Linked DNA regions of Homo sapiens: all the other regions are linked to region 4. The links come from fine-mapping of genetic effects on gene expression. A gene starts in region 4. Each other region holds a variant in brackets. All regions are shown on one strand. Distances are from middle to middle.

The links.
Region 1: its variant is fine-mapped to the expression of CHMP3 in whole blood (TOPMed, PIP above 0.99).
Region 2: its variant is fine-mapped to the expression of CHMP3 in lymphoblastoid cells after a statin (CAP, PIP 0.95).
Region 3: its variant is fine-mapped to the expression of CHMP3 in tibial nerve (GTEx, PIP 0.92).

The regions. Positions count from the first base shown.
Region 1 is chr2:86,597,740-86,605,739 of GRCh38, reverse strand. All of the region lies in intron 3 of RNF103-CHMP3 (RNF103-CHMP3 readthrough), which reads left to right. It overlaps RNF103 (ring finger protein 103), which reads left to right. Exons shown (of 4, transcript NM_005667.4): 4 at 322-2,342. The coding sequence ends at 1,897. The region is part of intron 5 of CHMP3-AS1 (CHMP3 and RNF103 antisense RNA 1); the gene reads right to left. Among named protein-coding and RNA genes, the nearest start is that of RNF103, 22 kb to the left of the region's middle. The variant G/A (reference allele first, on the strand shown) is at 3,508.
Region 2 is chr2:86,461,022-86,469,237 of GRCh38, reverse strand. It overlaps KDM3A (lysine demethylase 3A), which reads right to left. Exons shown (of 26, transcript NM_018433.6): 9 at 5,022-5,185; 10 at 2,355-2,866. Among named protein-coding and RNA genes, the nearest start is that of KDM3A, 24 kb to the right of the region's middle. The variant TG/G (reference allele first, on the strand shown) is at 3,299.
Region 3 is chr2:86,393,516-86,401,731 of GRCh38, reverse strand. No RefSeq gene overlaps it. Among named protein-coding and RNA genes, the nearest start is that of KDM3A, 44 kb to the left of the region's middle. The variant A/C (reference allele first, on the strand shown) is at 4,741.
Region 4 is chr2:86,559,335-86,567,334 of GRCh38, reverse strand. It overlaps CHMP3 (charged multivesicular body protein 3), which reads left to right and starts at 3,892. Exons shown (of 6, transcript NM_016079.4): 1 at 3,892-4,031. The coding sequence starts at 3,987. The region is part of intron 3 of RNF103-CHMP3 (RNF103-CHMP3 readthrough); the gene reads left to right. CHMP3-AS1 (CHMP3 and RNF103 antisense RNA 1) reads right to left here and starts at 5,265. Exons shown (of 6, transcript NR_183901.1): 1 at 5,088-5,265; 2 at 4,415-4,489; 3 at 3,936-4,067; 4 at 3,553-3,647; 5 at 3,195-3,358. RefSeq lists enhancers at 3,517-3,576, 3,735-4,029, 4,187-4,286, 4,297-4,466.

The DNA.
Region 1 (8,000 bases), 38 kb before region 4:
ACATGAATTATTTTCTTGTCTTCTGGATCTTAGCACATAACGCAGTTGTAGGTACATGAGAGATGCTGAAGTATTTGCTGATTCCTTTGACTCAGAGGCTTTTCAAGATACACTTTATTTAATAAAAAAAAAAGAAACACAGAAATACAAAACAAACTAGAAAAACAGAGCTTGTTTTTCACAGCTGCCAAGTAGTGGTACCACTTTTTGATTATTTGGAAATTATTTGGCTTTGGGGTGAGGTGCTAAAGAAATTTGTCAGGGAAGATAAATTGTTTGCATTACAGCCTAGCTGTTTATTTACAGTTTCCTCTCTTGTAGATATTGCAGGAGAAGAGGCTGGGTCCGATCCACACTCATTATGTCTGTTCCACAAACAAGTACTTCAAAAGGGAAAGTCATGCTTAAAGAATACAGTGGACGCAAGATTGAAGTAGAGCACATTTTTAAATGGATAACTGCTCATGCAGCTTCTCGGATCAAAACCATTTATAATGCTGAACACTTGAAAGAAGAATGGAATAAAAGTGATCAGTATTGGTTAAAAATATACCTATTTGCAAACCTTGACCAGCCCCCAGCTTTCTTCTCTGCACTAAGTATAAAGTTTACTGGAAGAGTTGAGTTTATTTTTGTTAATGTAGAAAATTGGGACAACAAGAGTTATATGACAGATATTGGCATATATAATATGCCATCATACATACTTAGAACTCCTGAAGGAATTTACAGGTATGGAAACCACACAGGCGAATTTATATCCCTTCAGGCCATGGATTCATTTTTGCGCTCATTACAACCCGAGGTAAATGATCTGTTTGTTTTGAGCTTGGTTCTAGTTAATCTTATGGCTTGGATGGACTTATTTATTACACAAGGAGCTACCATAAAGCGATTTGTGGTTCTCATAAGCACTTTAGGGACATATAATTCTCTATTAATTATTTCCTGGCTACCTGTGTTGGGCTTTTTACAGCTACCTTACTTAGATAGCTTTTATGAATATAGCTTAAAATTGTTGAGATATTCCAATACAACCACACTGGCTTCATGGGTAAGGGCAGACTGGATGTTTTACTCTTCACACCCAGCCCTGTTTCTCAGTACATACCTTGGTCATGGTTTACTAATTGATTACTTTGAGAAGAAGAGAAGGCGCAACAACAACAATGATGAAGTCAATGCCAATAACTTAGAATGGTTATCAAGTCTGTGGGACTGGTACACCAGCTACCTCTTCCACCCGATTGCTTCTTTTCAGAACTTTCCTGTAGAATCTGATTGGGACGAAGACCCTGACTTATTCTTGGAGCGCTTAGCTTTCCCTGACCTTTGGCTTCACCCTCTGATACCAACTGATTATATTAAAAACTTACCAATGTGGCGATTTAAATGTCTTGGAGTCCAGTCTGAAGAGGAAATGTCGGAGGGGTCTCAAGATACTGAAAATGACTCGGAAAGTGAGAACACAGACACTTTGAGTAGTGAGAAGGAAGTATTTGAAGATAAGCAAAGCGTACTTCACAATTCTCCAGGAACAGCAAGTCACTGTGATGCTGAGGCTTGTTCATGTGCCAATAAATATTGTCAGACCAGCCCATGTGAAAGGAAGGGGAGGTCATATGGATCATATAACACTAATGAAGATATGGAACCTGATTGGTTAACTTGGCCTGCTGATATGCTGCACTGTACTGAATGTGTTGTTTGCCTAGAGAATTTTGAAAATGGATGTTTGCTAATGGGGTTGCCTTGTGGTCATGTGTTTCATCAGAATTGCATTGTGATGTGGTTGGCTGGGGGCCGACATTGTTGCCCTGTTTGCCGGTGGCCTTCTTATAAAAAAAAGCAGCCATATGCACAACACCAGCCCTTGTCAAATGATGTCCCATCTTAACCATGTGCAATTTGTCCTTTATAAGCTTTGAGTATCTTACAGCTTGCCTTTTTAATGTTAGTCACAATGTTTTTGTGGTTTGAAGTTTAGTTTAATGTTAGTGCAGTGACGGGAAATACACATTATGCTAATGTTGATGACAGAATTTATTTGGTTGCCTTGTGTGTTAATTGAATGCATACCTAATTGTAAAATTTTTTTATTTACAACATTGGAAATTCAGAAGTTAATGTTTTTTTGTAAGCACAAAAGAAGTATTATAGAAATTTATCCTAGCAAGACTTTACAAGATAGGATCAAATTCTAATGGAATTGAGCCGGTTTCTTATCCTAAATGTTTCCTCCCTTTTTACAATCTCTGTCCAGCACCTCTTGGTTAAATAATGTATGCTGTGAGACATGAAATTAAAACAGACCTATGAAATAAATTATTTTAAAACCAGAAGATTACAGATTTTCCAATGTTAAATTTTTTTGATAAGGTGGCTGAATGATATAGGTGTTTTGCTGGTTTGTTAATTTCACAGATAGATCAAACATGATTCTTGACTCACGTTGGGGAGGAAGACAAAATGTTGCTGGCACTTGCTAGATGTGACAGTTCACCTTTTAGCTTGGTTAGCTGTGATGGGAAAGAGTTTCATGGTGGGCTTTTGAAAAAGTACTAAATAATTTATCAGTACTTAGCACATTCATCTAAATAAAATCAACTATAGCATATTAGCCACACATAAATTATGTTTTTTCTGACTTTTGAAATTTTTTAAAGCTACAGAAAGCTGTAAACATAGTACAGTGAACATCCATTTCTTTTTATCTAATTCACCAAGTGTTCACATTTTGTTATATGTTTTATCTCCTATCTCTTATGTGTATATTTCTTTTTTTTTTTTTTTTTTTTTGAGATGGAGTCTCACTGGGTCGCCCAGGCTGTAGTGCAGTGGTGCAATCTCGGCTCACTGCAAGCTCCGCCTCCTGGGTTCACAGGAGTAGCAGGGTCTACAGGTGCCCACCACCACGCCCGGCTAATTTTTTGTATTTTCAGTAGAGACGGGGTTTCACCGTGTTAGCCAGGACGGTCCCGATCTCCCGACCTCGTGATCCGCCCGCCTCGGCCTCCTAAAGTGCTGGGATTACAAGCATGAGCCACCGCACCCGGCCGCTGATCCTTTTGAAAATAAATTTCAGTCATCATGATGACTGACTGCTAAATATATCACCACATATCTAAGAACAAGGACATTCTTTTATGTAACCACTATACCATTATGACACCCAAGAAATTTAACATTGACTCAATAATAGCTAATGTATATAAAATCGATACTCCCCAATTGCTCCTGAAATATCCTTTATATCTAAATGTTTTTGTTTTATTTTTATTGTGAACTCAGACATAGTCGATACATTAAGTTTAGTCTCCTCCTTTTCATCCTTTCCTCTAGAGTAATTCCCCCTGCCGCCACCCCTTTTTTTTCTTTTTCTTTTCTTTTCTTTTTTTTTAAAGACAGTTTCCCTCTTGTTGCCCCGGCTGGAGTGCAATGGCGCGATCTCAGCTCACCGCAGCCTCCACCTCCCGGGTCCAAGCGATTCTCCTGCCTCAGCTTCCC[G/A]AGTAGCTGGGATAACAGGCACCCGCCACCACGCCCAGCTAATGTTTGTACTTTTAGTAGAGACGGGGTTTCTCCATGTTGGCCAGGCTGGTCTCAAACTCCCGACCTCAGGTAATCTGCCCGCCCCGGCTCCCAAAGTGCTGGGATTACAGGCGTGAGCCACGGCGCTAGGCCCCTGCCCCCTTTTTAAAAAAGTAGACTCTTCTTTGATTTCTCTCTGGTGTTCTGTTTTATTTTTCTTTTATCATTTTTTTCTTTTTTTGAGATGGAGCCTCTCTCTGTCGCCCAGGCTGGAGTGCAGTGGCATGGTCTCAGCTCACTGCAACCTCCGCCTCCCTGGTTCAGGCGATTCCCCTGCCTCAGCCTCCCGAGTAGCTGGGATTACGGACATGCACCACCATGCCTGGCTAATTTTTGTATTTTTAGTAGAGATGCGGTTTCACTATGTAGGCCAGGCTTGTCTCGAACTCCCAGCCTCAGGTGATCTGCCCACCTCGGCCTCCCAAAGTGATGGGATTACAGGCATGTGTCACCACACCTGGCCAATTTGTTTTACTTATTTTTATTTTATTTTTTTATTTTATTTTATTTATTTTATTTTATTTTATTATTTTATTTTATTTTAATTTTATTGAGACAAGGTCTTGCTCTGTTGCCCATGCTAGAGTGCAGTGGCATCATCATAGCTCACTGCAGCCTCAAACTCCTGGGCTCAAGCGATCCTCCTGCCTCAGCCTCCCAAGTAGCTGGAACTACAGGCTCAAGCCACAGTGCTAAGTTTTGTTTTGTTTTGTTTTTTGTTTGTTTTGTTGTTGTTGTTTTTGAGAGTTGGAGTCTTGCTTTGTTGCCTAGGCTGGTCTTGAACTCCTAGGCTCAAGCAATCCTCCTGAGTAGCTGGGGTTACAGGCATAAGCCATAATGCCTTGCTAGTTGCCTTTTTTTGGTACTAACATTTTTGGAGACTACAGGATGGTTGACTTATAAAATGCTCCACATTCTAGATTTGTCTGTTTCTTTCATGATTAGATTTAAAGGATATTGTCTGGAAGGTATGTACTTTCCATTTGTATGGCATCAGAAGGCACATGTCAGTTTGTCCTATTATTGGTGACATTTGGTTAAAGTGATATTTGCCTTTTCTTTCCATTCTAAGATACTTTTTCACTTTAAGAAGGAACCTGTTGAGACTATGCAAATATCCTATTCCTCAACAATCTAACCCAATGGCTTTAACATCTGTTGATTCTTTGCATCAATCAGTTATTAAAGAAGAGTTGCAACATGGGAATTTCATTTATTTATTTCAAGACAGGGTCTTGGTCACACAGGCTGCAGTTGCAGTGGCATGATCACAGCTCACTGCAGCCTCAACTTCCTGGGTAGCTGGGACCACAGGTGTGTGGCACCACATCCAGCTAATTTTTGTATTTTTTTGTTAGAGACAGGGTTTCGCCATGTTGCCAGGCTGGTCTCAAACTCCTGGGCTCAAGTGATCCACCCGCCTTAGCTTCTTAAATTGCTGGGATTACAGGCGTGAGCCACCGTGCCTGGCTAAGATGGGGGTTTTCTAATACCATCATTCATTCTACATTTATTGACTTTTTTGTGAACAAGAACTTTCCATTTTTCACACTTTTGATTCACAGATTTTTTAAAATACCCTATGTGTTAGAATTTATGATTCTTCTTGATTTTCAAATCATCCCAGATTAGGCTAGAGGGAGCCTCTCTAAGCCGGCTCTTATGTCCTATTGACAGTCCCTTTAATCTCGAAGCACTTCCTTGCCTTTTGACACAAAGGTATCCTAAGTTCACTTTGTATTTTCCCTGAGCCAGCCCTGTAATCAGCCATTTCTTCAAAGTGCCCGTTTCATGGTAGACTTGTAAAATCCTTAATTGGATGCCCCCCAAAATGGCAAGAAATTTTTTTCATTCTGAATTGCTGCTGACATTTTTTCCCCTTCATGATGCATTGTGTCTCACTTTCATATGCTAAGGAATAATAAGGCCTAGCAGTTACTTTGTATTAATATTTGGGAGTTTTTAAATAAAAGTGCAAGCACTGCTTCTTGTGCTCTAATTTTACTTTTGAAAAAAGTAATCATTCACAGTTCTCAAATATGAGCATAAAAACAAATTTTAAAAAATTTTTAAGTGCCCATATTATTGTAAATGTTAGTGTTTCCCAAGATTCTGCCATTGGTTCATTGATTTTTTTTCTCTCTTCATTGGATGTCTCCTAAATCTACATATCTAAGCAAAGACCCCTCCTAGATCTTCACTTTCATTTATAGCTGTCTGCTGGACAGCTTCTCCTCATGTTTTTAAGTACTTAATGACCCTAAGAGAGCTTTTTTATTCATTTATCCCACCCCCAGTCATCCTCTTAATTAAGGTCCTGATTTCAGTGAATGAAAAATTATATATATACACGTGTATATATATGTATGTGTGTATATTTATATACATATATACACGTGCATGCATATGAAATATACACAAAAGCATAGAAATTTTTTAAGAGAATTAAAATTTCCCCAGTATTCCAGGGCACACCATATGTTGGAGACTACTAACTTGGAAGATAAACCAATCTCTAACACTGGCTTTCAAGGTTCATAATCTGCTCCTGGCCTACCTCTTACACTCATCATGACACTCTATTCTGCTTGTGGCCCAGGCTCATGCTCTAATTTTTCCCAGCTTGGTGCTTTGCTATTCCCTCTACCTGATATTCTCACTCCTTCCTCTCTGCTTTGCCTGGCAAAATCCCACATTCTCCAGAAATTCTGTCCCTTCCTACCTATCTTCTCCTTCCTCACCAGGCTTATAAAGAGACAAAAATATGCAATGGACACTCAGGTGAATGTCACCCAAGTGATCAAACTTATCATCATCCAATGTGTGCCTTTCCTCCATATCCCACTGATATACCATGTACATGCCTGTCACACTTAGCTGCATTGAATTAAAACTCTGTGTCTTTGGTGAGCTCCTTTATGGTAGGAACTGTTTTGTTTGTCCAAGTATCCACAGTGACGGCACAAAATAGACATAATACATTTTCAACGTTAGATATGCAATAAAAATATTACAATGAGATCAGTGGGAAAATAATTGCCAAAGTTACATGTCTCCAGGCAAGCTTGACTCATCACTTAATTGTCAAGCACAACAAGTAATAATGCTTTTGTCAGATTTTCCTGGAGGTGGAGCATTGAAGGAAATATTTAAGGTTGATAGACTGTAAACTTTAGCTGTGTTTAAAATAAACGTTTGAATTCTTAGAACAACCTATCTCATGTAATGAGCTACGGATTTCAAGTACGTGGGCTATGTAGTTACTGAACTCTATGGTTAACTGTAATAGTAGGTAGGACAGATAATTTCTTCTGATCAAGAGTTTTTCTACTGTCTTCTCTAATAATTCCTTGTGTAGCCTTTTCTTTCTTTAAGGATGATAAGCTCTCTGAGGGCAGGAGTAACACTATAATCTACTCTTATATCCTTAACATATTAGAACCAGAGTAGATATTCGGTCAATAATTGTTGGCTTGAACTTTAAGAATCTATTTTATTTTTTCCCTTTACCAAACTTTTATTTATTTATTTATTTATTTATTTATTTATTTATTTATTTATTTATTTTTGAGATGGAGTCTCATTCTGTTGCCCAGGCTGGAGTGCAGTGGCACGATCTTGGCTCACTGCAACCTCCTCCTCCTGGTTTCAAGTGATTCTTCTGCCTCAGCCTCCTGAGTAGCTGGGATTACAGGCGCACACCACTGCACCTGGCTAATTTTTGTATTTTTAGTAGAGTCGGGGTTTCACCATGTTGGCCAAGCTGGTCTTGAACTCCTGACCTCAAGTAATCAACCCACTTCAGCCTCCCAAAGTGGTGGGATTACAGGCATGAGCCACCGTGCCAGCTTTTGCCAAACTTTTTACTATCCATTTAGAATAGGTGGAAAAGATTGAAGAAAACAGATTATATTTTTAGTGCCCATTAGAAGTGACAAAAATATTAATATTTATGGCCTGCTCCAAGACAAAAATCTTAATTGTTCCCCATAGTTACATACTTCTTTTCGTCTATTCCTTACATTGTTTGAGAGCCTGGGAGATTATTTATGTGATCTTTCTCCTTGCTCTCCCACGTTTTTCTCCTTGGCCATTTTATTATTCCTTAAAATTCTACCAAAGGGACGTGACGTAGAGAAAGATCTGGATCTTGTGTTAGGTCCTTTTTGCTGTTGGATCTGATTAAAAACTCAAAGAAGAATAAATTGAAATTTAATTGTTAAAATATGTTTTAATCATCTGTGTTTTAATCATTCTTGTTCTTTGTTGTCAATTAAATATATTGACATGATCAATTTAGGCAATCTTTTCATTTAATTTTTTAATAAATGTAATGATGTAAAATCATTACACTTTTTGTAATGATGTAAAATCTCATCAAAATATTTTATTGTTTTATATATACTAGATTA
Region 2 (8,216 bases), 98 kb after region 4:
AAGGTTTTAAATAAAGTAAACATCTTCAATAATTACCTTAGAGGTGATCTAATCTTACCTCTCTTTTAAAGCAGGACTAGACCACATGTAAATTTCTACATGATGCTGTTAGTCCTTGATCCCTTAAACACTCCTACTCAGTTATAGTGAAAGAGAAGGTAAAGTAAGAAAGGAGAGAAAATAAAGAGATTAGTAGTTCAAGGATGTAATTTTAATTACTCAGATATTGAAAGACATCCTTTGAGTTGAGCCAGGCTTCCACAGATCACAGGCAAGAAGGTTATCTTATCTGTTCTATCCTGGCTCACAAGAGGAAATATCTAGAAACAAGAAAGCTGAACTGTCTAAATCTAGCTCTTTACTGAGGAGAGCAACAGGTGCTACCATCAGTGATTCTCTGAATTCAAAGCCAAGTCAAGAGAAAAATGCAACGCCCACTTCCGAGGAGCCACGTATCTATCTGAACGGAAAAAAAGGCAGCTGTTTGACTCCAGTTTGCTTTTGTTTTCTAGACCCCAAGTGGAAGAAAGGAGCAGAAAAGTTTTCCAAGCCTTCTGTACTAACATGCAGTACTAGTGGACACAGCTCAGAAGTCCCGGTAGGCTTCTGATCACACTCTCACACCTCAACCAAAAAAAAAAAGTCACAGTAGATAGCAGGATGTGCTACTCCAGGATGTAAGTTTTTCACTTCTTTTAAAATCCATTAGATGGGGAATAGCTACATAACATATTAAATGAGACAAAGCTGGACTCCGTAACTCACTTGTGTATCTATCATGTGCTTATTGCACTAGAATCTTTACTGTTTCGTCACATAATATTAAATTTGCTTCAAAAACTAGCTGTGTGTGAGAGCTGATGATTCAAAAACAACAAATAGAACAAGGATATGGTTATGAATATGTACTTTCTTTTGAGTGTTACCTAATTTCTGAGAACAGGATAATCTTATGCAATTAATTTTATGCAAATTAACAGCTATATTAACTTAAGCCTCAATGAAGAAGCTAGGTTAGAAGTATTGCTAGGCAAAGAAAGTTCTTTCTATTCTTCCAATGCTATACTAAAAAGATTCGCAAGTCAAATCCAGCCATCTTGCCCTCTAATTTCACAGAGGCCTGCAGTTAAAAAGATAGTGTAGATATATTCATTTTTACTGATCCAAATAAATAAATTGTTTTCGTAGGTTGTTTTCGTTTGTTTGTTTTTTGAGCCAAGCTCTCACTCTGTTGCCCAGGCTAGAGTACAGTGGTACAATCATAACTCACCGCAGCCTCCAACTCCTGGGGTCAAGCAACCCCCCTGCCTCAGCTTCTCCAGTAGCTAGGAATAACAGGTGTGCCCCACCATGCCTGGCTGATTTTTAAAAAAATTTTTTGTGGAGATGGGGTCTCACTATGTTGCCCAGGCTGGTCTCAAACTCCTGGTCTGAAGCAATCCTCCCACAGTGGTCTCCCAAAGTATTAGGATTACAGGTGTTAGCTACTATGCCCAGCCTAAAACATTAACAAAATCCATATCAATTTCCCACATAGCTAACAGTGATCAAAAGGCATCTTTAAATTCTAATAGCTCTAAACCTTTTGACATGCTGAAAACATTTTGTTCTTCTAACTCTAGTAACAGAGCTTCTGATAACTACCACCATTATAATGCATCCTCAAACTTCATATAAGTAGCATCAAGTACAACGTACCAATTTCCCCATAAGAAGAGTAGTTTTAAATTGTGGGTGCAGCAGGACCTCCCCTTAAGCAAAGAGACTCTTCCTGGTAGTTCAGCCCTATCCGTAACATCTTTAACCCAAGTCCTTTTTCCAGAAATGATACAATTCTGCATCTTTTCTAAAATTTCAAATCTTAGCTACCTGTCACAGATCACCTCTTCCTACTCCAACCTGGATGTAACAGAAAGATCAGTGACAAGCTGAAATAAAGTAAACACCAGATTACTTTAGATTTTGTTTCAAAATTTTCTTAACCTAAGAATTGGGAACCACCTAATTACCCACCTAATAGGAACCAGTTAAATCCTATGGTAAATGAACATAATGGAATCCTTGCTTTAAAATACTAATAGACACCTACACTAATTCACAGGGTAAAATTATTGGCATGAACCCATTTGTGTAATACAGTTTATCTGTATTTCTATATACATGAAACCAGGTACACCAAAATATTAACAGTAATCGTTTCTGAGATTTGGGAATTATACCTTCTTTCAACTTTTCTGACTGTATAAACTATTTCTACAAAGTCATTTTCACATAGTTTCTCATAGGACAAGAAAGAGATATATATATCTACCATTTCTTACCTTCTACCAATAAAGATATTGAGAAACACTCACCATTCTGGATTTTATTGTTGCTTCTTGAACAACAGCTTTCATTATCTACTTTTACTGAAGATTCCTTTAAATTCTGTGATCGGCAAGCTAAAGCTGAAGGTTCTACCTTTTTTCCTGAACAGTTATTAGGGCTATCACTATTGACACCTGCTTTCACTTCTGGTGCATTTGAAACATCCGATGGGGAAGGTGCATGTTCTAGGTGCTTCTGCAGTTCAGGAGGATTGGCAATTTCCAATTCTGCCTTAGAAGAAGCCTTTGTAGGTAAGCACTCCTTAGGAAGGCCAGTCAATGCTTGTGGAACAGACTCCAATCTGTTTTCCTGATCAGTGTTTGTCTTAGGCTGAGTACAGCTGCCTTTTGGCTCAGTCAGAATTTTCAAGTCTCCAGTTCCAATCTGAGAGGACTTTGAGAGCAACCCTGCTTTGCAGACATCTGGTTTTGTTCTCAGAGCTTCAGACTTTGTATTTAGACAGGAAGAAATTTCCTCTGGTAAACTTTGTTTATGACATCTGAAAAATATAATATAGAAAGCTAGCATCCAGGCCTCTTTTTATCTCTCCATTATCTTCCCCAAACAAACTGTTTGGTTCCCTAAGGTAACGAGTATGAAAGAAAAAAGAAAATTTCTCATATGTTACAGAATTTAGGATAGATTTCTGTGAGCTAGAGTTAAAAGTCATCAGTCAATGGTTCTGCAAAAATCATAAACACTCAGAAAAATACAACCCTAAATTATGTCTGCACGTTCTCAGAAATCTTTAACTTCTTACGTTAGTTCTACTTCTCACAGCACAATGAACCTTAGCTTTCCCTCAAAACAAAATATTGTATGAAACCAAAGAATATACTCAGCAGATAAGCTGGTTTATAAGTATCAAAACCAGAAGTCTGTGTAGGGGCAATTCCGAAAGTTTTCTTTCTTCTTTTTTTTTTTTTTTTTT[TG/G]TGTGTAAATTTCAGAGAAACCTCTGCTAAAACTCTTTCTTCTATAGTAAAGATTATGTTTGAATTTTAAAGATAAAACTCCATTCTTGCTACTTGCCAAGAGTCAAAAATTGAACCTCTAGTAAAGGTCAATGTGTCAAGATAAAAATTCTAAAATATATACGTATATAAAAAATGTTAGAAATCCCTTCAAAGATATTCACACAAAATCTAATTAAAAACGAACAATGGGCAAGGCACAAGGGCTCACACCTGTAATCCCAGGATTCTGGGAGGCCAAGATGAGAGGACTGCTAGAGGCCAGGAGTTCATGACCAGACTGGGCAAAATAGCAAGTCCCCCATCTCTACAAAAAAATTAAAAATTAGCCTGGTGTGGTGGCACGCGCCTGTAGTCCCAGCTACTTGGGAGGCTAAGGCAAGAGGATCAATTGAGCCCAGGAGTTCAAAGCTGCAGTAAACTTAAACTTTGACTGTACCACTGCAACTGCACTCCCTCCTGGGCAACAGAGCAAGATCCTGTCTCTAAAAAACCTCAAAAACTAAAAAAAAACTAACAAACTGGCAGCAGCACAAAACCCTTTTCTGCTATGAGCAACATGTAACCAGCCCTAACAGAGAATAATTTCATTCTTGTTTGTTCAGTGATCAGCACACAGAGCAAATAGAATAGCTGATTGATTACTTGGTTATTCACAGAACGATTTGGTATTTTCCCTGTACATCTTACTAGGGATAGCCTTGAAGAACTTTTGTTTCTTAGCATCCTAGAGTTCTTTCTCCAGAAAAATGCAAAGTCCTTTTTTTCTATTATACCTGTTTGTTCCTGCCTCTACCAAAGGACTTCACCCTGGAGAAGAATTTTTCATTTAAACACTCAGATGAAAAATCTTTCCTTGGATATCACTGAACTTCCTAATGTTCCCTCCGTTTCTATTTTGAAGACTGCTCCTCCTCCTGTCTGACTGCCACATGGCCATCCTCCAAGCTCTATCCCAGACTGACTACTTTTTCCCAGTGAACCAGTGTGCTCAGCCACTCTCCCACCTTCCAAACCTACTTTTCTATACCACAGTCTCTCTGACCTACATCTTAAGGCTGTATCAACTGCCTGCCTACGCAGGCCACCACCACTTCCCAGAAGAGATCCTTCCCTTGAAACTACTTGCTCTGTCAACCTTGTACCTACTTTAAACTTTCTAGTGAAACTTTACATTTCGTACTCATTTTCTTCCTCTACAAGTTAGTAACAGTTACCACCTACAGATATTGCTTCCTCATTTCTATTATTCTTAGAGTCCTCTCTACTGCCAAATTTCTCAACTATACTTGGGTCAATTCATGTCGAGGCTGCGGAGAATCTCTCACTGTAACCATGTCTCACTGCTTCTTCACACTCCCACTGACCTCAGTCTTCCATGTACAACCAATCTGTTCCCTTTTCCTTAAAAGAAGACACCTGTTTTACAAAGGTACTATTTCAATTGCTCCTTCACACTGTATCAAGACAGTCTCTTTTCTCATGCCCCCTTTCACTTCTATACCATTTTCTATGTTGCTCTGTGTGCCTTCTATACTTTTCACCTTCAAAAGCATCTATCCATCTTTTCTCAGAAACTCTAACGAAAAACCTCCCTGGACAACCAGGGATAAAAACAATGAGCCATGACTAAAATAATTTTTTATTATTATAATTAAACATCTTTAACAAATCACTACTCACCCTTGAGGAATTTTTGCTCCAAGGTTAGGTGGAGAGTTGGCAGCCTGGGGAGTACTTTGCTGTCTTGGGTCCTTACTAGGTGGAGTTGCCGCAGTACAGCCAAGCAGTATCTCCTTAAAAACTGTTGTAGGTACAGACTGCACAGGACACATACTGGGAGAGGCCTAGAAGATACCAAACCAACAGATATTAAAAGGAAGTCCCTAGTTAGGAAATAATAAAATGCTACCAAATTTAAGATCATTTGCTTAATACTAAACAAACATAATACCATTGCCAAATAAAAAGAAACAGGAAAGTGAAACAAGTGATAAACTATACAATTCAGGGCTTTAAGACTGTAAGTAATCACTCCAGCTTTTCACAAAACTTATGTCTTCCTACAAAGGATCACAAGCTTATCTTTTTCAGACCTCTGAACCACTGTGCCAGGAAAACAGTCAGGTGGCAATTACTTTACTAATGCAACGCAGAGGTGAACTTTTAAGTGACAGTTTTAAATGGTGGCAGCTTCACATGCATTCACTTTGGCATGACTTGAGTGCCCACCACGCACTTACTGCATAGTTTGGCAGGAGACCAGACCACATAGGACTCTTGTAGGCAGGGATGCCTATTTGGTACCCAGATAAGCCTTTGCAATGCAATAAAAGTTGAGGACAGTTCTTGCTCTTATGTGGCTCATCAAGTCACAGAAGTCATCCCAAGCTGCAAAAAATATCAAGTTATGACAGGCCTGTGGGCAAAGTTGGGACACCTGTCCCAGTTCCCTTTTCAGGTAACTTAATCTTCAAAAAAAGGAAGTATTGAATCAACTTCTTAACAGTTTATACCATTCACAAAAATAAACTTCCCACCATAAAAAAGAAAGGAGAAACTCAAGACAACTAGTCTAAGGCTGAACCAGGTGAAACCAATTCACCCATTTCACCAGGCTCCTCACATGTGCTTAAATTTTTAAGTTATATACCTTAAATTTTTAAGTCATATACCTTTCTCAATCGTCTTGCCTTACCACCAAATCTAAACTTGAAGAATCTCCAAAGTTTCTTCATCTTCTAGTCATTAACTTCTAAAGTTTGATTACAACTTCCACTAATAGGTTTTCTGTTTTGTTTTTTGTTTTTGAGACAGTCTCACTATTATCACCCAGGCTAGAGTGCAGCAGCGCCATCTTGGTTCATTGCAACCTCTGCCTCCAGGGTTCTAGCAATTCTCAGGGCTCAGCCTCCCGAGTAGCTGGGATTACAGGCATGTACCACCATGCTCGGCTAGTTTTTCGTGTTTTTAGTAGAGACAGGATTTTGCTATGTTAAGGCTGGTGTCCAACTCTTGGCCTCAAGTAATCTGCCTGCCTTGGCCTCCTAAAGTGCTGGGATTACAGGCATGAGCCACTGTGCCTGGCCAGCAGGTTTTTAAAACCTGACAATTTCGAATATATTTATATGTACTCTACTCATGAATGCTTTTCTCAGAAATTTACTTGACAGCCTTGAAAAGACTAGCTAGCATATACAGATATATCTGAAAAATAAGAATTTAATCACTGGCAAAGTTTTGGCATAGTTTCAACTATTTTTAGGCACTAAATTATCTGATCATATATTACACTATTTCAGTCAACTCAATTTTGGTTAAATAGTACCTTAATGTTCTCCAGAAGGTGTGATGGTTGGTTTTGGGTGTTTTTTGAGTTTCCTAATCCTTTAAATGAGGAAATTTGTTTATTCCTAAAGTCCCTTTTGCTTGTAATAGTTTGCAATTCCCTGTTAATCTGAGGTTAGTCTCCCAAAGTTTAATGCTAAATCATTTTGAAATGCTTATTCAAGGCTCAATTTTACCAATTATCTTTCCTCATATTGGTCACCTTCCTTATTCTGAATATGTTTAGAATTGATGCACTAATACCTTTCCTCACTCTCCCAAGAGCAACATACTTAAGAAATTTGGATTATAAACCTAAGCATAAATTTTTACTCTGTATAAAATCAAGCCGCTCAAGTTAAAAAAAAAAACCCTCCATCTAATTTCCCATATGTAATCAATAAACCAATAAATCTTGCCTCTATTTGCAAAGTATGTATTGAATCTACCCATTTCTTTTCATGTCACTACTACTACCATCTTTCCCCTAAGCTACACATGTCCTAACCAACCTTCCTTCCATTCTTGTTGAATCCTCTGCATCCTACCCAAGATCTCTTCTACCACAGAGCAATCTCTATAAAACATAAATCAAATAAGATCACGGCAGTCCACTGCCTACAAGAATCCCATGTGGTCCAGTCTCCTTACCACTCCTGCTCCTCCTCCCCCCATCTCTTTCACTGCCCCGCTTGCTCACAGTACTCCAACTACACTTGCTTCCTTTCTCATCTCCTAGTGTTCTAAGCCCTTTCTTGCCTGGGCCTTTGTACTTGTTATCTCTCTGGCTACATCGTTTTCAGTGGCTGGTTGGTTCTCTCTGTTCACCCTCAAGTCTGTTAATATGTCACACTCTCAGAATTTCTGATTACTCTTTCTGAAGTAGCATCCCAAAAGCCGTCCCTTACTCTTTATCATTTTTCTGTTTATACCTTTCATAGCCCTTATCACACCATGAAAGTACCTTTCACTTATTCACTGTCAGTCTCCTCACAATGGGACACACACTGTTTATGGGCAGAGGCCCTGCTGTTGCGCCCACTGTTATAACCTCATAAAACCAAACATACAGTGGATGCTCAATAAATAAGACTGGTGGAATGAACATACCAAGGAGTGAATGCTGTTAGCATGTAACATTTCTAAATAGCTATAAATCAATAAGTCTTATGAGTTACCTGAAGTGACAGGAAGTGATGATCACCACTGTAGATCAGTCTAGCATACACTAAATATGCAATAAATACTTGTTGGAAGGAGGGATGGAGGAACAGAGGGAAGGAGGGAAGAAAGGAGAAATCTGCTATTTTTACAAGGGTGATTCACCACACCAAGGAGAAGATTTGGAGAGCAGTGGCAACAGCACAGTGATGAAGAGTACTGGATTTTGGTGTTAGCCTTTGGTTTGAAATTCAGTCTCTAACACTTCCTAGCACTTTCTTCCCATGAAGTATACTTTACAGGGCTGTGCTTTTACCATAGTGCCTGGCGCTGAAATCAATTTTAGAGATGAGCTGTCTTAAAGCAGAAAAACATTGCGAAAATTTTCTC
Region 3 (8,216 bases), 170 kb after region 4:
TTGGTTATCAGACCTTTGGACTTTGGGACTTATACCAACTGCCCCCTACTTCTTAGACCTTTGGACTTGGATTATATGTTACAACATTGTCTCCACTGTTCTCAGGCCTTTGGACTCAGACTGAATTACAACACTGGTTTTCCTGGTTCTCCACGATGCAAACAACAAATTGTGGGACTTCTTGGCCTCCATAATCATGTGAGCCAATTATTATAATAAATTTCCACATATATGTATACAGAGAGAGAGAGAGACAGAGACAGACAGAGGGAGAGAGAGAGAGAGAGAGAGAGAGAGAGAGACTGTGCCTGACTTATAATGGCTCGACTTTACAATTTCTTTACTTTACAGTGGTGCAAAGGCAATAGGCATTCAGTAGAAATTATACTTTGAGTACTCATACAACCATTTTCTGTTTTTCACATTCAGTATAGTATTCAATAAATTACATGAGATAGTCAACACTTTAGTATAAAATAAGCTTGTGTTAGATCATTTTGCCCAACTGTAGGCTAGAGTAAGTGTTCTGAGCGCGTGTGAGGTAGACTAGGCTAAGCTATTATGTTCAGGTAGGTCGTGTGTATTAAGTGCTTTTTTTTTTTTTTTTTTTTTTTTTTGAGACAAAATCTCACTCTCGCCCAGGGTGGAGTGCAGTGGTGCAATCTCAGCTCACTGCAACCTCCGCCTCCCGGGTTCAAGTGATTCTCCTGCCTCAGCCTCCTGAGCAGCTGGGATTATAGGCATGTGCCACCACACCCAGTTAGTTTCTGTTTTTAGTAGAGGTGGGATATCATTATGTTGACTGGGCTGGTCTCAGACTATTCACCTCAGGTGATCTGTCTGCCTTGGCTTCCCAAAGTTCTGGGATTACAGGCCTGAGACAACACACCTGGCCCCTTAAGTGCATTTTTTTTTTTTTTACTTATAATATGTTCAAATTATGCCAGGTTTATCAAGATGTGACCCCATTGTAAGTTGAGGAGCATCTATATATCCTATTAGTTCTGTTTCTCTGGAGAACCTTGACTAATGCAAGCCCAGAGCACCCACTGCAGGGTCAGCCTGGAGCTCCCCTCCTTGGGACTTGCTGGAAATTGCACCTTGCTTACCTGCTGTGCTTTTGTTGTGTTGGGGGTTTTCGAGTGGTCTGAGTTAACCAGCTTCTCCAAGAGTGATATTTCCCCTTCAGTTAGATTTGCATCAGACATGAGTCTTAGACACTGTCTAATGCTCAAGGAATTTATTCTGGCAGCACTTTTATAAGACAGGAGCAGGCTGGTGGCATGGGCTAGATACAGTCAGGGGATCAGATGACAAATGACAGAGAGGGTCTCCATCTGGAGACTGTTCTCAGAGTTTGGGGGATCCTTCCCCCTTTCTTATACCTGCATTCAGTCCAGGTCAATTACCTCAGTTACAAAGTGTTTCTTTCATAAATGGAGTTGAAGCTATTCTTGTAAGAGTAAGCTTTGTTTTATGATTTATGAAAGTTGCATCTATGCTGAGGTGGCCTTGTCTCCTGGAAATCCATGGACCAGAGTTGGAAATCTCCAGGTCAGGTTGTAGCATACTACCAAGTGACCAGTAGTACCAGCCCTGCAAGATGCATGAGTGGGCCTTATGGCTGCCATTAATCTTATAGCCATGATATGCCTCTTCCAGTGTACTACACCTTTCCCCGTCCTGCTGCCCCCCACACCCTCAGAGATGTCTTCTGGAATAAGTCGACTGCACAAGACTGCTTCTGAGGAATCTCTCCTAAATGAGGGAAGCCCAACCTTCTTAGTCCCTTTGGGCTGCTGTAATGAAGAGTAATATACTGGGTGGCTTATAAATAACAGAAATTTATTTCTCACAGTTTTCTTAAATTATCTGAATCAAATTTAACAGTTCTGGAGGCCGGAAATCAGAGAACAGGTGCTGGCATGGTTGGGTTCGGGTGAGGGTTTCCTCCAGTGACAGACAGCTGACTTCTTACATCCTCACGAGGGAGAGTGTATTAACTCTCTGACCTTTTCTTATAAGGGCACAAATCCCATTCATGAGGGTTCCACCTTCATGACCTTATCACCTCCTAAAGGCACAAACTGCTAATATCATCACACTGGGATTAGAGCTTCAACATAAGAATTTGTGGGGTGGGGGGACACACACTTTCAGTCCATTGCACCAACCTAGCAGAGACTTTCCAGTTTGGCTTCAGGGACTCCTTCTCAGGCTCCTCTTCACATTTGACACCATGGGCCACTCTCCTTCCAAAGCTCTTTAATGCGACACGGCATTCTCCAGTGTCTGCATTCTCTCTGATGCTCCTTCTCTGCTTCTTTCTCTGGCTCCAAGTACTTCCTCCAGTCACTAAGGGAGTGTTCCTCAAAGTTCCTTTGTCTTCTCTTCTCTCTCTACACTTTTTGACTTGCTGATCTTACTCGCCATCATGGCTCAGCCAGTATCTGTTTTCTCTCCTGAGCTTCAATCTCGCATTACCAACAAATCTCCCATATTACCAACAAATCCTGGTAGCTCGTCTTCACCGTGTCTGGAATGGACTCTTCCTCCAACCTGCTTCCCCTCCCTGTCTCCTAGTTCTGTGAGTTGCTCCTCCACCCCACTTCAGTGTCATCTCAGGCTCCTCCCTCTACTTTGTTCCCCTTCCCAAGCAGTTGCCAAGGCCTCTTGATCTTGTCTCTGCAATTCTTGACTCATTCACTCTCTCCCCATTTCACCACCACCTCAGTAAGTTGAGTCCATATGTAAGTCCAAGACCATCCATGCCTTCTATTTAGTCTTGCATAATTTCTGGTCCTATCCCAAGATATTACAAATGTTGGGACAGATCCTGGGATCCCAAATTTCTTTTTCTGAAAGCATCACTAATGGATTCCATGGCTGTTACATCTGTTTATATCTAGTAGATTCATGTTATCGTGTTCATGTCAGAAGATATTAATACTGGAAATTATAGGCATTAGTGGTCAAAAAAGAAAGAAGCCCTAGACATTTGTGGAATAGAGAGGAGAGATGACTTAAATTCTTTGTACCACAAGCTATGACTTAATAAGTCTCTTAACAAAGGTTACTATAAAGTAAATGAGAAAATACTCATCTCATGGGCATGCATTGAGCTGTAAAACCACAGTAATTTGCTGAAAATAACTGGATCAATATACCTTTTTTATGAAACTTTGACTAAAGTGGTTCATTTATATTATCAAAAAGCAAATAGCTTGTTCCAACTGGGTAAAAGTTATATAAATATATCACCGACACCATCAAAATAGAATTCAAAAAATACCGACTTACTATTTCACTGACTTAATTTCCTCCACTGCAAAATTTAGCATGCATCTGTGTCGTAGGTAATTATTTATCTCATCTGCTCATAATAGCAACATCCTTCTTCCGGGAAACTGCCCCCTAGCCACATGAGTCTGCCATTTGTGATACTCTGTGTTCTGGCCACCAGTGAATGCAGGTGACACAAGTGGAGTATTAACTCCCAAGGGCTTGGTTTGGGCCGGGAATTGACACATGACCTAAGCCTGGCCAATCAGAGTTTTCTTGTTAGATTTTTATCATTCAAACTTGGAAAGGAGAGCTGTGGTTGCACACGGTGTGGATGTAATGCTGGGACTGCCCACGGCCACATCCCTTATCTTATGGAGAAGCCAGTCTAAGAAAACAAAGCTAGCAAGGAGATAAGAACAGAGCCCCAAGGACAGTATGAGAGTCCTGGCGGTTTAAGCCCTGGATCCAGCTGAACCTACTCTTTCTATAGTCTTTCTCCCTGAGCCAATACATTTTACCCTTGTGCCTAAGCTAATTTAAAGAGTTTTGACCAGCAAATCCTTGTAGGCAGAAGATATATTTTCTATCAATCTGTGCCTCTTGGCATCTAGAGCAAGTGAGGGTTTTAGGAAGACCTGCTGATTGATTAAAGACTAATTTATTAGACAATTATCCGAATCAAATTTAACTGAGTCATTTCTTTTCTCCAAGACAGGCATGCAAGTGTGCACGAGCATATGCACATCACATACTCACATACACACACAGACTAAGTTTGGTGGCCAGGCATGGTGGCTCATGCCTATAATCCCAGCACTTTGGGAGGCCAAGGTGGGAGGATCGCTTGAGCTCAGGAGTTTGAGATCAGCCTGGCCAACATAGCAAAACCCTGTCTCTACCAAAAAATACAAAAATTAGCTGGGCATGGTGGTGTGCACCTGTGATCCCAGCTACTTGATAGGCTGAGGTGTGAGAATCACTTGAGCCCAGGAGGAGATCTTGAGATCACGCCACTGCACTCCAGCCTGGGAGACAGAGTGAGACCTCATCTCAAACAAACAAACAAACAAACAAACAAAAATAGACTAACTTTAGCATTCCCCATTTAGCAGACCTGGAGAGTGTGCATGTGTGACCGAGTGTACGTGCACACACACACACAGTCATCCAACTCACACAATACTCTTTTCTAGGAATACAGAAAAGCTTCACAGGTCATACTGGCAAAACCAAGTTGTTTTTTCTTTCTTTTTTTTTTTTTTTTTTTTTTTTTTGAGATGGAGTCTCGCTCTGTTGCCCAGGCTGGAGTGCAGTGGCGCAATCTCGGCTCACTGCAAGCTCTGCCTCCCGGGCTCACACCATTCTCTTGCCTCAGCCTCCCGAGTAGCTGGGACTACAGGTGCCCACCACCACGCCCAGCTAATTTTTTGTATTTTCTAGTAGAGACGGGGTTTC[A/C]CCGTGTTAGCCAGGATGGTCTGGATCTCCTGACCTCATGATCCACCCGCCTTGGCCTCCCAAAGTGCTGGGATTACAGGCATGAGCCACCACGCCCGACCAAAACCAAGTTTTTTAGGGAATGTTTTCACATTATGTATAAGATGGGGAAGAAAAAGAGTATTATACAGCTTTCATTTTGTTTCAGGGACTGTGCTTTGTGTTGTAATATATTTCCTCTCATTTTCTTACCACAAAATTCTATCAGGTGCACATTATTATCCCCATTTGACAGATGAGGGAGCTGGAGACATGAAGCTCAAGGCCACACAGCTGCTATCTCTATCTGGAATTCAGCATGGACCCTGGCTTGTGGACTATGCTGCCTCCCTGTGGACTATGCACTGCTCCAGAGGCAAAATGGAGACCACAACAATCCATTTCTTGAAACACAGCCTAAGTTTCTAGAATCAAGATAGGTGCATAGCTAAAGTATTTGTCTATGCAAATAGAAACGGGCACAACGGAAAGACCAGGGTCATGAAGGGAAAGTCAGCGAAGGGCGAAGGGGGTGGGGGGCAGAGAGCCAGGAGGTTTGCTGAGGCATTAACCGAGTCCCACGGCTGGCACTGGCTCTAGACTATGAGCTCACCCATACACAATGATCATGGAGCCTGTGCCACCTGATCCAGGGCTTGGCACAGGGTAACTTCTCAGTGTTTCTGACTGAACTGGGGGAGATTTATTGAATAGCATGGGAAGGAGTAGCAGTCCTCAAAATACTGCCTCCAGTGTTTTGTCCACGAAGATGAAGAAAATAACCAGATCTTGCAGCAGCACTGAAAACTACGACCAACAGGCAATCAATAGACAGATAAATTGGGATCTGATTATGAGGCAGATATAACCATTTTGAGGAAAGCACCCAAGCTACAGCTCCTGGTACGAACCCCAGCTTTGCCTTCTGAGTGCTGGATGTAAGTAAGCAAGCTTGATTCTTCCATCTAGGTTTTGTCCTTGGGCTCAGACACACAAAACATAGGAAGAACAAAAGCTGGCATTTAATCCACCCTCTAAATCCCTTGGATATTTATTTATGCACTTTGTGCATTTTTTGTACACTTCCCTTCTCTTTTATACCCTCCATTCTCACATCCCATATTTCTGGAGATAGAGGCTACCAATTCCAGGGAATGGGGCAGTAAGTGAGTCTTGTGTATGTGTATGTTGAGTGGGGGTTGGGGGAAGTGAGTGTGTGTATAGTACATCTTGGGAAGTTAGTTCTAGGAGTAAAGAATTATCGGGCCAGGTGTGGTGGCTCATGCCTGTAATCCCAGCACTTTGGGAGGCCGAGGCGGGCAGATCCCCTGAGATCAGGAGCTCGAGACCAGCACGGCCAACGTGGTGAAACCTAGTCTCTTCTAAAAATACAAAAATTAGCCAGGTGTGGTGGCAGGCACCTGTAATCCCAGCTACTCAGGAGGCTGAGGCAGGAGAATCGCTTGAACTCAGGAGGCAGAGGTTGCAGTGAGCCAAAACTGTGTGGGAGAGACCCAAAGGACCTTGCAGTAGTTCATCCAAGATATTCCATTCATTTAGGGAAACAGAGGAATGCAGACAGGGAGTATGAGAAAGCTGCCATATGGGTAGTGCAACGCTTCCCTGGGAAACAGGCAGGGAAATCAACCTACTCCAAGCTGTAGATTTGAGAAGAGAAACCAAGCACTGTGGAGATGACGACCCACAGCCACCCACCCCCAAATAGTCTGTGTGATCACACCTTGCCTTGTTTGATGCGGAGTGAAGAGAACTGGATTTATAACAACATTTAAAGTGACATTTAAATAATTTAAAACAATATTGGATTTACAACAAAATAATGATTTTTTTTTAACATAGTCTTGCTCTGTCACCCAGGCTGGAGTGCAGTGGCATGATCTCAGCTCACTGCAACCTCCACCTCCTGGATTCAAGCAATTCTCCTGCCTCAGCCTCCCGAGTAGCTGGGATTACAGGTGCGTGCCACCATGCCTGGCTAATTTTTGTGTTTTTAGTAGAGATGGGGTTTCACCATGTTGACCAGGTTGGTCTCGAACTCCTGACCTCGTGATCCACCCGCCTCAGCCTCCCAAAGTCCTGGGATTACAGGCGTGAGCCACCGTGCCCGGCCCTAGCTATCTTTCTTTTATCAATTTCTGATTTAATTCTATTGTAGTCTGAGAGCAGATATTGTGTAGTTTCTGTTGTTTTAAACTTGCTAAGATAGGTGCATGGCCCATAATGTGGTCTGCCATGGTGAATAGAATATATTTTTTACTTTTTAGTATGTGGAAAAACAGTATAATGAACTATATTTTCATCACTAGGCTTCAACTGTTATCAACACATGGCCAATCTTATTTCATCACTGGTTTCTCTCTTCCTGGCTAATTTAAAGCAAATTTTAGAAATTATATCATTTTATCAATAATTGCTTCAGTATATATTATAATGTGGGCATCACCATTGAGAATGTGGTCCTTAGGAATTCAACAAAATCATCCTGTACCAAGACCCACTGATATCCTTGCCTTTACCTACCCTACTCTATGCCCTATACCTTGGCCCAGGCTAGATGAATCTAATTTGTCTCTGTGCACTGAAAGGACTCTGCAGGTGGCTGATATAAATATGCCTTTGGGAAGCTACTTCGGGTGGCCAAGGGGACAGTATTGCAGTTGGCAGTCTGACTCCAGCTGTCACCACTTGTGAGCCATGTAGCCTCAGACAAGGCATTTAACCTCTAGAGCTGTATCAAGGTTTTTCTCTTCTGATTAAATGGAGAACATAAAACCTACTTCACCAAATTGTTATGAAGCTTAACTAAATAAAAGTGAAAGTCAGGTTAGTCATTATTATCACAGTTTATGCAGCAACACAATCATGTCAGGGAAGTCTTTAGTGTAGGGATTTCTTTTGCATACAGGAAGCCCTGTGCCAACTTTAGAGAGTCCAGAAAACCCCATGAAACCACAAGACCTAGGCACCAATTCCCAGAACAAGGCTGAATTTAGTCCCTGATAGAGTCTGAATCCTGACTATGGCAAGCTAGGCAACTCAAACTGTCCATTGTGAACTGGGCATTATCTAATCCACTGAGTCATAAAATTGGAATGTGCAGCAGTACTCAGTATAAAATGGAAATGGTGTTTACAAGATAAGGCCCAAGCAGGTATAAAAGGCTCAAGAATATTGCATAAGCAGGTGGCTCACCCTCCCACATTTTTTGCTTCTACTACTTTACCACCTCTCTCAGCCCACACCAGTGGCCTCAAGGGGAGTTGCCTAGGACTAGCTGACAGAAGAAGAAAAAGCACAGGCTTGGTTTGCAGTGGGTCTGCATGATAGGGCTGCAAGTGAACAGCTGCTGTTTTACAGCTCCCCTGAAGAGTGAGTCTGAAAGGCAAGGGTGAAAGGAAATCCTCTTAATAGGCAGAATTTTAAGCAGTACATCTGTT
Region 4 (8,000 bases):
TGGCAGTCCTAGGAAATCAACACAAGGATTATTGTAAGTTTGGTGGAGAATGGTTGGAAATGGACAGGAGGTGACTCAAGGTCTGTCTTCGCCTTATCTCAAGTCGTAAGTTGTGGGTTGGGAGACCCTTGGTCCTGAAGTTTAGTCATAAAGATAAATCCACTCCAAAATTATTATATAAGTCATGGGAGGGAGTTCAGTTTCCAAACATTGATTTATATCTAACATTTCCAGGGTCCATCTGTTGTATAAAACAAGGTGTATCTTGGCTTTAGAAAGCCAAAAGTCTTGCCAGGAATTGGGTTATGATTTTCTTGCCCAAAGCATTTCATTTAACAATCTACCTGGCAAATGGGGAACAGTTGTGAGCCAGGAAGCTCCCTAAGACTGGATATCTTAGTGAAATGAGCAAGGAAAACTGGAAGGTGGAGGAAAAACAGTCCTTTCTGTTTTTCATTTCAAATTCAGGGGAGGATTTAAAGCATAGGCATTGAAGTACCTCTCAAGGATACACATCTATTTATATTTTTCAGAGATCAGGAGGAGAATGCACATAAAGCCTTTGAAAATGTGTGTGAACAAACGTCTATGTGAACATATGGCAGGGGAGTGTGATCCTGTTAAACACTTGCTGTGTTTGGCAGGAGTAAAGAGCTAGAATGCCTGCTCACTTAGTTCTTCCCACCCACTCAGATGTGTGAGTCTTAGCAGGTGGGAGGATCTGTAGCTTGCTTCCTGAGGTCCATGTAGGAAGGACGAACTTGAGCCCCAGCCGCAACTAAGGAGTGCTCTGTCCAATGCAAAAGCAGTATCAGGACACAAATGGAGAGTACACGTTACTCTAAAGATAGAGCCTAAAAAATGTGTGGAAGCAAGATGCACGGTGCAGAGGAACTGCACTGATGTGTTGATAGGGCTCTGTCAGTACCTATGAGCTCTGTACGACATTGAGAGGCCATGTGCCAAGTCAAACCTTCCTCCACACCCTGCCAGGCCTCTCTGCCATTGATGGCCAGCTTTAGAACAACTGCAGCTTTAGGATCTGAAATGGCTGTGGCCTAAATCCTCCACCCAGAAACAGGGAAGGCTCTTTGGCACATGCTGTTTCTTTTACTCTGGATACTCTTCCTCTCTCTGCTAGCTCATCCTTCAGGTCTCAGCTTATTTGTCATCTGTTCAGGGAAGAGTCACTGATCAGCACTTTCTTCTTATAGTCAGAATTTTGCACATTTGTAGTAATACAATTTCGTCTATAACCATTGTTTAATACTATTGTCCTTCTCATCAGATTGTAGGAGATTTTTTTCTGCTCACTGCCATTTTCCTGAAGCCTATAAAATGCCTGACATATAGTAGGCATTTGAGAAATACTGTTGACTAATTGGCGATCCAGTATCCTCCTACTTGAAAAAAATGCTTATAGTTTATTCTCAAAAAAAGGTGAAAGAGACTTAAAAAAATTCCACATTTTCAAGGAACTCCTTCACCTTTAAAATGGAAGGAAGAAAGGAAATAAGGAAGGGAAGGAGGGAGATAAATGGAAAATGAACAAGGGTTATGAAGAAGCAAGTCACAGAAGAAATTCAAATGACCAACAAATATATGAAAAGATGCTTATCCAGACTAATAGTCCGGGAAATTAAAGTTAAAAACAATATTTTATGCCCTTAGATTGGCAAAAATTTTAAATATTGCTAAAATTCACTTTTAGCATGGATTTAGGGAATAAGAGTGCTGGTATACACTATTGGTAGGAGTTCACAATAGTGCAATGTATATGGAAGATACTGGTATTAAGTTTAAAATTTTTAACTGTGCCTATATTTGCAGGATTATTTACTAGGGAAAAACTAGAAACAATCTTATATAATAGGGAAATGGTTAAATAAATTATGGTACATTCTTGCTATGGACTGCCATAGGTATTGACACTGATGAAAGTCTACATAAAATGTGTTTAAAAGGAAATTGTAGGACAACGTATATAACATAATATCAATTAAATAAAAATAGGGCTGGGAGAGGTGGCTCAATGTATATAATATAATCTCAACTAAGTAAAAATAGGCCCGGGCAAGGTGGCTAACACCTGTAATCCCAACACTTTGAGAGGCTGAGGTGGGAGGATCGCTTGAGCCCAGGAGTTTGAGACCCGCCTGGGCAACATGGCTAACCCTTGTCTCTACAGAAAAATTAAAAACACAGTGGGCGTGGTGGCTGACACCCAGCTACTCAGGAGGCTAAGGTGGGAGGATCACTTGAATCTGGGAGGTAGAGGCTGCAGTGAGGCAAGATCCTGCCACTGCACTCCAGCCTGGGTGACAAAGTGATACCCGGTCTCAAAAACAAATACATAAATAAAAATAAAAGTATATTTTCCAAAGGAAAAGGTTTCAGAAGATTCACACTATATTTAATAGTTGGTGTGAATCCTTTGAGACCTTTTCCCCTGAGGAAGTGAGAATGAGGGTTTAACTTTTCACAATGAACAGGCAGTGCTTTTTTAAAAACAACTTTATTGAAGTATGATTGGACATAAAATAAATCGCACATACTTAGTGTCCAACCTGGTAAGTTTTGATATTGTATACATCTGTGAAACCATCATCACAATCAAGATATTATCCATCATCCCCCTAAACTTCGTGTCTCTTTGTAATCCCTCTTTTCTGCCTCTTTCTGACCCCACTCCTATCCGCTAGCAACCGCCCATGTACTCTCTGTCACTATGTATTAGTTTGCATTTTCCAGAATGTTATGTAAATGGAATCATACGGTTCTGGCTTCTTTCACTTGGCAGAATTATTTTGAGATTCATCCATGCTGTTGCATTTATCAATAGTTTACTTTTTTATTGCTCAGTACTATTCCTTCGTATGGATCAATCACGACTGGTTTATCCATTCACTTGTTGATAGACATTTGGATTGTTTCCAGTTTATGGCTATTACAAATAGAGCTGCTATGAACATTTGTGTACAAGTCTTTGTAAGAACATATGCTTTTTTCCCTCTTGGGTAAATAGCTAGGAATGGAAGGCTGGCTTTGTTTAGCATTTTAAGAAATTGTCAAAATGTTTTCAAAGCTGCCGAACCATTTTATGATTCCACCAGAGACAGGAGTATGGGGCTGAGGTAACAAATGGTCCCCTTCACCATCCTCGGATGAGTTAATGACAGTAACCATCAGCTCACCGTATAGGCCTAATCAGGAACTGTCCGTGCTAAAATGTGTCTAGTTCTCTTTAGTCAGATTCCTTTGAGAGTGTGATTAAGCTCACGGTCAGTGTGGCGTGTAGGACGGGACACACATGGACAAATGCTAGGCAGGAATCGCCCACGCTGGAAAGGGCGATGGCCTGAAAAAAAACGACCGCAGTTGGGATGGAAAGGGGAGGGTTGAAGTTCAGACATATTGAAGTTAGAATGGTTGGGACTTGGTAAGAGGGGAGAGAGGACGATGCCTAGGGTTTAGTGACCAGGTGATGGTGGTGCAAGCAGAGGGGAGGAGTGGGTTGGCGGGAGGAAAAAGAGGTTATTTTTGGTTTGTCACCTGTGAGTTGCCTACTGGACACAAAGATGAAGCTGTCGGGAAAGTGATGCTAAGTGTACACGTCTGCGTGGAGATCCAGACTTCTGGTGCAACATCTAGGTTTAGGTGAAGTATTAGAAGCAGTTGTAGCCAACAAATTCGTATCTTTCAGAGCAATCATTTCTACACCTTACGAAAAGCACCGAATCCGTGGTCTCCCCCACACAGACATGACCAGAACATGTGCGATGACGTCAGCCTTTTTGACTAGTCTCCCACTCACTCGATTCTGCGCAGGCGTATGGCGCATGCGCAACATCCCCTAGTGCCGCCGCTCCCTACTCTGGGGGTTGGGACTACCTCCTTTTCCGCGGGCCCCGCCCAGGCGGCTGCCCGTGACCTGCCTGGGCGCGGGGAACTGAAAGCCGGAAGGGGCAAGACGGGTTCAGTTCGTCATGGGGCTGTTTGGAAAGACCCAGGAGAAGCCGCCCAAAGAACTGGTAAGGGCTACGGCGGCGGCAGATAAGCGGGTGGATCTGTGTGGGGCGTAGTGAAGTTGGTAAATGACAGGACACTCTTCTCCCCACCGCCTGCCCGATACCGCCCGGCCCCCATTTCCGGGGACTCCCACTCGACAGGGGGGCCGGAGGAAGAGTCTTTAGGAGTCGGCTGTGGGACGCGAGAGCTCCTGGTGCCATGGCTCTCGAACAGGTAGCCGAGGGTGGATGAAGAGTTTCTCCACCTCGCCACTGAGCGCGTAGGCAGCGACACCGTCCTGGCCTCGGAAACCTCTTCCCCCTGCGCGCGTTGGTACGACCCGCCCGGAACCTTTTCCCAGCGTAGGCCCCACCCCTCCAGCCCGGCTGCGGACCACCCGGAGAACCTTCTCCTGCCCGAAGCGTTGTTTGGAGCGGGCCGGGTCGCGTCTGCCGGAGGAGCCGTCTGTTCTCCGTCCTCCCTGTTGTGTTGAAAAAGAGGCTCAGTTTCCTCTTTCCCCAGCCCTTGTGTTGACCCTAGGCACATACCGTAGCGGGGCAGGGACTCGACCCAGAAGAATGTTACAGAAGATAGCTCTGGACCCGGCTTCGAACTCTCGTTACCTATTAATTGAGATAATATTGGGAGGCAAACAGTTGAAAATGCCCTGCAGTCAGTCAACCTAAGTTTGAATCCTGCCTTCCCACATCTCAGCTCTGTGATCTCTGGAAAGTTCACTTCTCAGTGCCTTCTCGACTGTGAAGCCAGAATAATAGTAGTGTCACCTCAGAGTAATTGAAGATTCAGGGATGTAAAGTTTTCATATTGGTAGTTAGGGCTAATTCTTTAAATACGGCACAGCTTTGCTACTCAAATGCCAACCAGCAGCATCAACATCACCTGGGAGCTTGTTAAATCTCGGACACCACTCCAGACCCACTGAGTCAGATTTTGAATTCTGACAAGCTCCCTAATGATTAGTGTGCACATCAGTGCTTTGAGAAGCACTGCTCTGCAACACCTAGGCTTGTCCATAATGGAAAAAAAAAATCCTGAAATCCTTTAATAAATGATCTTACCTGTTCAGCTCTAGCAGGCACATTTTAAAAACTAATCTTATGCATCTTGCAATTCCTGGCACATAATGTGCGTTAATGTAAATTTGTTGTTGTTGTTGTTAAAGGCCCTAGAACAGTAGACACTCATTATTTTCGTCAGGAAACTTACTCAGTTTTGCTCCTTGGTAAAATAAAAATTGTGGCGCTTAAATGAAATAACGGTATAACATCACTTTGGAAACTATAGAACATTATATAGATGCACATTTTGTGACATCTGTATATTCTAAGATTCTTGTTATTGTAGAAGTGTGGTAGGGAGAGATTATTTGTTGTCTTCAGTGTTTGGCCTTGGCATTGCCATTCGTAAATTGAGATAAGATTATGGAGAAGCAAAAAAGATGCTGGGGAAATGGTTGCTTTATTGTTTAAACTAGTCTCTAGTATATGTACTACTATACTACTCTAGTATATTGTACACTTAGATTGTTTTTAAATGATAAATTGCTAAGAACACGATATTGGTACACTCTTCAGTAGGGTAATCTACCTGAGAAAGCTGATTGACACTGGAAAATGGCAGGGTTGATGCATGAGATTGGTTTTTAAAACTATGCTTGCCAGAGCCGAACAGGTAAGATCATTTATTGAATAAAAAATTTTAGTTGTTTTTCCCCCCATTATGGACAAGTCTGGGTATTGTAGAGCAGTGCTTCTCAAGCATTAGTGTGCACACTAATCATTAGGGATCTTGTCAGAATTCAAAATCTGATTCAGTAGGTCTTGGATAGGGTCTGAGATTTCTAATAAGCTCCCAGGTGATGTTGATGCTGCTGGTCTACACTTGAGTAGCAAGATTGTAGAGTGAATTAAGATTAGCCCTAACTACCACCACCTTTAGCTAACATATTGAACCAGGCATTGTGTTAAGCACTCTGCAATGTTATGAGGTAGGAACTGTTATTGTCTCCACTTTACAGGTGGCAACTGAGGCATACAGTATTTAGGTAATTTGCCCAAGGTCATACAGTTTGTGAATTACAGCACCAGAGGTTATGTATTCTAAGGCCTATACTTAGAATTATCATGCCATTTATACTACCTCCCAAAGAGGGATTATAAAGGTGAAATAAGAAGCCAAAGAACTTAACTTCTAGCAAGTAAGATAAACATTTTAAGAGCTGGTTTGGATAGGGCACCTGATATGGTTTGGATCTGTGTCCCCGCCAAATCTCATGTCAAATTGTCATCCCCAGTGTTGGAGGTGGGACCTAGTATGAGGTGATTGGATCATGGGAGCAGATTTCCCATGAGTGGTTTAGCACTATCACCTTTGGTACTGTCCTTGAGATAGTGAGTTCTCATGAGATCTGGTTGTTTAAAAGTGTGTAGCACCTTCTCCCTCATTCTCTCTTGCTCCTGCCATGTAAGATGCCTATTTCTTTGCCTTCCCCCATGATTGGAAGCTTCCTGAGGCCTCCCCAAAAGCAGAAGCTGCTGTGCTTCCCGTACAGTCTGCAGAACTGTGAGCCAGTTAAACCTCTTTTCTTTTTTTTTTTTTTAAATTATACTTTAAGTTCTGGGTTACATGTGCAGAACGTGCAGTTTTGTTACATATATACACGTGCTGTGGTGGTTTGCTGCACCCATCAACTGGTCACCTACATTAGGTATTTTTGCTAATGTTATCCCTCCCCAACCCCCAACCCCTGACAGGCCCCGGTGTGTGATGATCCCCTCCCTGTGTCCATATGTTCTCATTGTTCAATTCCCACTTATGAGTGAGAACATGCGGTGTTCGGTTTTCTGATCTTGTGATAGTTTGCTGAGAATGATGGTTTCCAGCTTCATCCATGTCCCTGCAAAGGACGTGAACTCATCCTTTTTTATGGCTTCATAGTATTCCATGGTGCCACATTTTCTTAATCCAGTCTATGATTGATGGACATTTGGGTTGGTTCCAAGTCTTTGCTATTGTGAATAGTGCTGCAATAATTTTTTTTTTTTGAGATGGAGTCTCGCTCTGTCGCCCAGGCAGTGCAGTGGCGCGATCTCAGCTCACTGCAACCTCCGCCTCCTGGGTTCAAGGGATTCTCCTGCCTCAGTCTCCTGAGTAGCTGGGACTACAGGCCCGTGCCACCACATCTGGCTAATTTTTTGTGTGTTTAGTAGAGACAGAGTTTCACCGTGTTAGCCAGGATGGTCTTGATCTCCTGACCTCGTGATCTGCCCGCCTTGGCCTCCGAAAGTCTGGGATTACAGGTGTAAGCCACCGCGCCCGGCCCTCTTTTCTTTTTATGAATTACGCAGTCTCAGGTATTTCTTTATAGCAATGTAAGAACCGACTAATACAGTACCACATACACAGGTATAGGAGTTCAGTGGTTGGAGTGATTATCTCCAGGCTGAGATGATCAGAAACAGTTTGACCTTTCACTGTCATGTGTTCCATCCTCTTCCTGCCTATGAATGGGTTCTTGACTATTTAGTAGGATTTTTAGTGTTAGATTATCCACTTTATCTGGTGCTGGAGATACCCTGCCCAAGGTTTTCTTCAAGTTCCTCCTCAGTTCTTCAAGGTACCCATTCAGTTTTGATATGTTTTAGTTTGTTAGAAGAATGTCCATCCACTTTAGGGTCAGCTTCTACCAAGTGCCAGGCTTTCTCTCACACCTGTGACTTGTGAACAAAGAAAGTGTTTTGTCACCAGCTGTGGTTACTTAGCATTAGTCTGTAATTCAAGAAGGTGCCAATAAAGCAGGGATGGTGTATTAGTCAGGGTTTTCCAGAGAAGTAGAACCAATAGGATGGATGGATAGATAGGTAGTTGAGAGGGAATTTAATATGGAAATTGACTGGGGATTATGAAGGCTGAGAAGTACTATCATATGCTGTCTGTAAGCTGGAGACCCAGAGAAGCCAGTGGTGTAGCTC